Homo sapiens: one gene and its partner. The protein of the gene in region 1 purifies or fractionates together with the protein of each later gene. This does not show direct contact. Each region holds a gene or a part of one and is shown in the gene's direction. Other genes may lie near its edges. The genes, in order: CEACAM8 and NGLY1.

Region 1 (3,918 bases):
GGAGTTGGGGCAGGGTAGGTCATAAAGCCTGACCCCAGGACACTCTGTGTGAGCACATGAGCCACACACACCCCATTAGATCTCCACACACAGCTGTGACCATTGTGAGGAGGACTAACACAGGCTCAGAGATCACACCAGAGAATCAGCCACAGAGAAAAACACGGATGTGGAATGTGATGGAGCTCGACATAACATGTGGGTGACCTCGTGTGAAATGTGCAGATCCATGTGGAATAAAACACGCAGCCGGACCTGGGACTGCGGCCACCCACACTTCCCTTCCAGTCCACCAGAGGGCGACAGAGTCCCTCCAGCCTGGAGCCTTCCCAGGGGCTGCTGACCTCCCTCAGCGGAACCCACAGCCCAGCAGGGTCCACCCTCACCAGGGCACCTCGGCCCACGTCCTCCTTACCCTCCAAGCTCCCCATACGGACTCTGTCAGCTCCTCCCTGCAGCCAGGCAGCCGGCAACATGAGGCCGCCCCCTCTGCAGGCAGCTCCTGCCCCACACACCCAATCCTTCCCTGGGCCTAGTTAAGGCATCTCCCAGGGCAGCGCTGGTGCACGGGATGCCACACTGGGCGCTTTCCCCTCGTGACCTCCCTCCATCCTCATCAACTCTTTCTGTGACTGCTCCCTAAATACCCGCCCCTGCTCCGTGTGTCCTGTTCTCTACGGCATGGCAGGCTGAGCCCAGCGCTGACAGAACCACAGCTGCCTGAGGGCCCACAGTGCCTCTGGGGAATCAGCCAGGCACCCTATGACCTTCCCTCTGCACCCCAGGAGGCTCGGAGAGTATGTGATGGTCACGCCCAGGCACTGTCTGGGATGTAGCCACCTGCCCCCTGCTGTCCTTCGTGAAGCCAGGAGGGAGGACAGCGCTCTCTCATGTACACAAGCTGGGGGGCAAGGAATGAGCTCCCTTTGTTCCCAGAACATGGCCCACCCCTACCTGCCCTCTCAGGTGTGAGCAACGTCCCCCCAGACGGGCTCCCCGGCCGCTGCCCATCCTTTCTCTACACAGAGGGGCCTGACCAGGTCCAAACCCTTAGGACAGACCCCAGGGGATATCAGCATGGGGAGGGCTGAGCCCATCCTGGCTGCAGAGTAAGTTGGGATGAGTCTCTCCAGCTCTGAGCCCCTGCTCTGTCCCAGGCTCCCTCTCCTGGATCTCAGAGAGCACTGTCTTGTGGGGCCCCTGGGCAACTCCCCACTTCCTGCTGCACCAACCATAGGGAAGGTGGGGTGACCACAGGACAGTCAGCCGGGCGAAAACAGAGGACACCCAAGATGGTCAGAGAGAACATGGAAGGCCCGAGCCCCAGCTCAGCTGCCAGAACCCAAAGAGCAAGAGAATGGCTGATACCTGTCCCTGATGACCACTAGGCCCACAGCCCCCACTGACCAACCAGAACAGCCCTCTCTCTCAGGAGGCATAAGAGATTATTTGCCCTGCACACCACCAGTAAGGACAGTCCCCTCTGGGATATCCAGGGCATTGAATGTCCATCCTTGGAAGCTGCAACCAAGCTTGACACAATGAGAGAGGGGGAGGATCCCTCTCACCAGTGAGCACACACCTCCCCAAAGCTCAGTGGTGGTGTCCCTGTGACAGGGTCCTTGCGGAGCGCTGACCTCCTGATCTGAAGGGAAGAGCCAGATGGGGATGGGAGAGGGCAGGGGGAGCGACTGTGCACCCCGACCTGGAGACATAGGCTGCAGGATGCTGAGGGCACAGGGCTGTGCTCACCCAGTCTCCAGGGTGTATGTGTGACTGTGTGTGTCTCTTTGTGTATGTGTGTGTCTCTGTGTGTGTGTGTCTGCATAGTGTGTGCAGAGGTTGGGTGAGAGAATCACTGCTGAAGGAGTCAGAGACCTCAGCAATTCCCAGGGGCCTGAAACACAGACAGAAAATAAAGGGAAAGGAGGGACAGGGAGGCAGGACTGAGAGGGGAGGGGACAGAGAGGTGTCCTGGGCACAGACCCCGCCCATGAGCCTGAGAAGTGCTCCTGCCCCGGGAAGAGGCTCAGCACAAAAGGAGGAAGGACAGCACAGCTGACAGCCGTGCTCAGAAAGTTTCTGGATCCCAGGCTCATCTCCACAGAGGAGAACACGCAGGCAGCAGAGACCATGGGGCCCATCTCAGCCCCTTCCTGCAGATGGCGCATCCCCTGGCAGGGGCTCCTGCTCACAGGTGAGGAGAGGACTTCCTGGGAAAGGACAGGAGGAGGAAACACAGTGACTGGCTGGGGTCTCCTGGGGAGGACGGGGCTCTGAGAGGGGACAGAGGACTTCTGTTGGAGCCTTAATAGAGGAGAGGACACAAGAGAGGGGAAGGGGTCACAACAGGAAAATCACATTGAACTGGAATTGGTAAGAGGCAGGAACATCTCAAGTGTTCCATATTCCTGGTTAATCATCACTGGCCACTACATTTTGAAAAATGATAATAATAACCATACCAGATGACACTTCAAATAAAGCATAACCAGGGTATGAAACATTGTCCTCAGCCAACAATGTCAGACATTGGCAAATAAGCCTCAGGAAGCAGAGGGCCCAGGGAATGCTCAGGAACTCATCCACAGGAGTCTGAAGCCTGTCCCAGGCACTGGGGTGCAGCCAACACCACACAAGTCCCTGCCCTCACAGAGCTCACACTCTCCTGGGGAGGAAGACAGACAAAGAGATCTAGAATGTGAGGTCAGGCGCTGACAGGAGCCCTGGAAGGAACACAGCAGGGAAAGGTCAGAAAGGGAAGACCCAGTGTCTCTAGAGGAGGTGTCAGAGAAAGGGTCTCCCAAGGATGCCCTGATGTGAGCAGGATCTGAGGGCAGTGTGGAGGGAGCCGTGCAGAACCCTGAAGAAGAGGATTCCACCAGGGAAATGCCAAGGTCAGAGGTGTTGAAGAAATGGGGGCTGTGCTGCTGACATTGACTCAGTAGGACACACACACATACACACACATAAAAACACACAAACTCCAAAGCTGATGTCCCCATTTTTCTACTCCAATACATATGTTGCAATATTGCTTGATGCTCTCTCCCCCTCCTAGCCTCACTTTTCACCTTCTGGAACCCGCCCACCACTGCTCAGCTCACTATTGAAGCTGTGCCATCCAATGCTGCAGAGGGGAAGGAGGTTCTTCTACTTGTCCACAATCTGCCCCAGGACCCTCGTGGCTACAACTGGTACAAAGGGGAAACAGTGGATGCCAACCGTCGAATTATAGGATATGTAATATCAAATCAACAGATTACCCCAGGGCCTGCATACAGCAATCGAGAGACAATATACCCCAATGCATCCCTGCTGATGCGGAACGTCACCAGAAATGACACAGGATCCTACACCCTACAAGTCATAAAGCTAAATCTTATGAGTGAAGAAGTAACTGGCCAGTTCAGCGTACATCGTGAGTGATTCCCCATGACCTCTGGGTGTTGGGGGTCAGTTCTACTTCCCACACACAGGATTGTTAGGCCTGGGCTGTGCCCATGTCCCTCTCTGCATTACATCCCACTTTAGGGTTTGGACATTTAGTGCAGGACACACTCAGGGGAGACAGACTTCCACAGACCAGAATTCCTTTCCTGCATCCAGACCCTGCAGACACTCACGGCAGAGGAATGACAGTCTGATGGGGGGACTCAGCAGAAGGAGATCAGACTCAGCCAGGCACCCCGTGCCCTCCCCATGGACCTGACCCTGAGAAAAACTCTAAAGAACTGGGTCAGGGCCTGACCTGAGGGGCTCCCTGGGATCCTGGGATCCTCACAGAGAAGTTCATCCCTGGAAGCCCCTGCTCCAGACCCCTGTCCCAGGATCCTGACTCCAGGTAACCCTGGGAAACCTGTGCCAGCACTGGGTTGTAGCCTCCTGGGCAGGGCCAACTAGGAGCAAAGATTTACC
Region 2 (3,918 bases), on another chromosome or scaffold:
TACTGACATGTTTATCACCCTGTGAAATACATTGAGTGTCAGGAAAAGATGCCCCATTTATCGAAAACTAGCTTTGATAAATGTAGGATTATTTTATAGTTCAGTTTTCTTAAGTGATAAGAAAGAGAGGCTCACTTGTGAGACAGTGTAGCATGGAAGCCAGGAATGCGAATGTTCTGCAGTGCACAAGGAAACTCCACTGAGAAAAGGCCCCACATGTTAATGGTGCTGAGACTGAGAAACCCTAATCTAATACACAGAATAAAGAGTTGAGAATAAAATTTTCTTTGTATTTCACAACCATCTGTGATTCTCAAATTACATATAGTAAAGAACAATGTTTTTGTTTTAATTTCCAATCCCTTATGGACCTATAACTTTTGTAAAATACACTGAAAATTTCATGGCAATATCAAATTGCTGTATACCGAACATTCAATTTCTCTACTTCTTGCTTCATTTTTATGCACTTGTAAACAAACAAAGAAAAAATTTCTGTACTACTTGTGTATGGGTAACAAATAATTTGTAGATTAGCACCAATCTGTGGACATTTTGAATAGCAAAAAAAATAGAGCATTTGTCTCTGAATATTCTGTAATAAACATGATTTTTGAAATTAGGGAAAAGTTTAAAAACATTCATTTAGTATTTATGACACTTTGGCCAATAGGCAATTGACTGGTGAAAAACAAATGCAAAATTTGTTAAAACTTATAAAATTAAAATATTTGGTTTTTGGTTTTGTTTTTACGTCAGAATACCTAGAGAACATGTGTAGATAGGACAAAGTTGATAAGTCATTTGCTAGCATTTGCCTACTCACCATATCATACCCCAGGGCAGGTGGCTTCTTATGGAAGTACATCTTCCTATGGATCCCAGATACTGCCTCAGAATCCTCCTTAACATAGTACTTAAAGAAGTCACTATCACTTTAAGGCAGTTGGTGTCAGGTATGAAACTTATCATCCTAAACTATGTTCTGAGGGTCTTTTGAATATAATACTATGATTAGCTTAACCTTACATTCTTTTAATTTTTTTTAAACAATTCTGATTTATCAAAGTAATTAAAAATCTCAAACCAAAACTTTTCATGTGCTGGTTACTTGTCCCAAGTGTACTATTCAAAATCTTAATTATGGTAAAAGAAATTTATGTCTTCCTTTTATTGCCATACTGTCTGTGTCAAGAATATGTCTTGGGCCAGGTGCGGTGGCTCACGCCTGTAATCCCCAGCACTTTGGGAGGCTGAGGCGGGTGGATCACCTGAGGTCGAGAGTTCGAGACCAGCCTGGTCGACATGGTGAAACCCTGTCTCTACTTAAAAAATGCAAAATTAGCCAGGAGTGGTGGTGCACCCCTGTAATCCTAGCTACTTGGGAGGCTGAGGTGGGAGAATTGCTTGAACCTGGGAGGTGGAGGCTGTAGTGAGCCGAGGTCACGCCACTGCACTCCAGCTTGGGAAACAGAGCAAGACCCCTCTCTCAAAAAAAAAAAAAAAAAAAAAAAAAAAGAATGTATCTTAAACTGAAGCGAGACCCCCCCCATCTCAAAAAAAAAAAATGTACCTTAACAGCACAGAATGTAATTTACTGTTTTTACTTATAGTAAAAACAACCATTGGTTTAGGGAAGAAAGAAAATCAGGTGACTATAAAGGTATACCTAGGTCATGTTTGTTGAAAGTAAAGTCTTTGAAGAACTATGACCTGGTTTTTTTTATATATAATCAAACTTTTGTTTTTTGTCAGAAACCCTAATGATGAAAAATATAGATCCATCCGGATTGGAAACACAGCCTTTTCTACTAGACTCTTGCCTGTCAGAGGAGCTGTTGAATGTTTATTTGAAATGGGCTTTGAAGAGGTAAGTATGTTCAAGGATTTCCTCTCCCCTCTTCATGCACAAAGCAGCCATTATCATGTTGGTGAATAATTGTTTGAATAAGATAATGTTTTTTAATTTATCATTTTGGGAATCAGTAGAAGTAGTTATTTCTTCATTGATTGGACATTTAAAAATCACAACAAGTATAGTTTAAAATTTCAGTAAAATGTAACAACGCTCCACAGAGAAATTCTTACGAGTCTCAGTTCTTTAAAATAAGGGTCATACATGCAACCCAAGGACCAAATGTGGTTCACTTTAGGCTTTTAGCTAAAACCTGATTTGTGAGCACACATGAATACTAATAGAGTCTAGCTACCTGTCTGTAGTAGGAAATGAAAAGAGTCTGAAGTAAACAGAAAAACTGAGTTGAGCTGCCACACAGAAGGGGTTTCTTCTGTGACAGGAGAGGAGTCTCAGTATTTTTTTTTGTTTTTACTTCAAATGAATATTTTGGTGTTATCTTTTGGAATCTTGTGGTGTAGTTTAATTTTATGACACATCGAAAGTAGTTATTAAGATTCTGAATTTTCTTTATGTTTATATCCTTAACTAGTTCTCCTTTGTAGAGCATTGAAAGAACTTGAACAAGTTACAGAGACTCAATAGTCAGTGGTCGTCAGAATAGGCAATTGTAGAAGTTGTTAAAGAGATATGCTGAGCTGCTATGTAAGATTCACTTTTCTTCATGCCTCTCTGCTTCCCTCCCCAGGTTCCATTTCAGGCCCTGAAGTAACAGTAGTGAACAAAGTAGTAGATATAATCCCACCTCACATAGAGCTTACATTCTAGTAGGTTAAACAGCCAGTAGATGTGAAAACAAGATGAGTGCAAAGAAGAAAATAAGACCAGGTAATAGAATAAAAAGTACTTTGCATGGCAGGCAGTGGTCAGGGAAGTCCTCTCTGAGGAGATGACATTTGAGCTGTGACTTGAAACATCTCAGGTACCTGAAACTCTCAGGTAAGAGTGTTTCAGGCAGAAGGATTAATGTGTGTAAAGGATTTCCAGCAGAAGTAACCGTGAAACAGAAATAAGCTGCATAGGGAGGCAGAGACCAGGACACATGGGGTCTTGAGGAATGTGGCAAAAGACTTAGACTTTATTTTAAGTGAGATGAGAAGCCACTGGGAATTTTTTTTTTTTTTTTTTTTTTTGAGATGGAGTTTCGCTCTTGTTGCCCAGGCTGGAGTGCGGTGATGCAATCTCAGCTTACCACAACCTTCGCCTCCTGGATTCAAGCGATTCTCCTGCCTCAGCCTCCTGAGTAGCTGGGATTAAAGGCATACGACAGCACGCCTGGCTAATTTTGTATTTTTAGTAGAGATGGGATTTCTCCATGTTGGTCAGGTTGGTCTCGAACTCTTGACCTCAGGCGATCCGCCCGCCTTGGCCTCCCAAAGTATTGGGATTACAGGCGTGAGCCGCCGTGCCCAGCCTGGAAAGTTTTAAGTAGGGAAAAATATTTTTGAAGATTATTCTAGCTTGCTGTAAAGAGAATTCCTGGAGGTGGTGGGATGGGGACAAGGGATGAAGCAGGGAGACCGGTTAGAAAGCTTATTACATTAGTCTAAATAAGAAATGGTAGTGGTTTGTATAAAGTCCATGAAGGCAGGGTTTTTTGTCATTTCTGTTCCCTGTGTTGCTAGCTCCTGGAATAATGCTGGTGCATTACAGATGTTAGGTACTCAATAAAGATTTGTTGAATTAAGTACTGATGGTGGAGATGGAGAGAAGTAGATGGATCCAGGATTTCTTTTTGTGACAGAATCAACAGGACTTACTGGTGATTTAGATGTAAGATATAAGGGAAAGGAAGGAATCGGGGACTTACCTATGTTTTGGTTTAAGCAACTAATTGGATGGGAGTATCATTAATTGAGATAGAGAAGCCTTGGAGAGTAGCAGGTTTTAGGGGAGAAACTAACACCTGTCTTTGGACAATTGTGACCAATTTGCTGTTAAATATTCAAGTAGAGAAGCCAAGTAAGCAGTTGGCTATATGAGTTTACAACCCCAAAGGAGAG

What was found.
Region 2: the proteins of CEACAM8 (region 1) and NGLY1 purify together in Homo sapiens (co-immunoprecipitation; 2 studies listed by BioGRID and IntAct, with this or other methods). This does not show direct contact.

The regions. Positions count from the first base shown.
Region 1 is NC_000019.10:42,593,044-42,596,961, reverse strand, and holds the start of CEACAM8 (cell adhesion molecule CEACAM8 precursor), read left to right. Parts: upstream 1-2,037; 5' UTR 2,038-2,133; coding exon 2,134-2,197; intron 2,198-3,061; coding exon 3,062-3,421; intron 3,422-3,918. UniProt on the Homo sapiens protein: Cell surface glycoprotein that plays a role in cell adhesion in a calcium-independent manner. Mediates heterophilic cell adhesion with other carcinoembryonic antigen-related cell adhesion molecules, such as CEACAM6.
Region 2 is NC_000003.12:25,776,526-25,780,443, reverse strand, and holds part of NGLY1 (peptide-N(4)-(N-acetyl-beta-glucosaminyl)asparagine amidase), read left to right. Parts: intron 1-1,755; coding exon 1,756-1,870; intron 1,871-3,918. UniProt on the Homo sapiens protein: Specifically deglycosylates the denatured form of N-linked glycoproteins in the cytoplasm and assists their proteasome-mediated degradation. Cleaves the beta-aspartyl-glucosamine (GlcNAc) of the glycan and the amide side chain of Asn, converting Asn to Asp.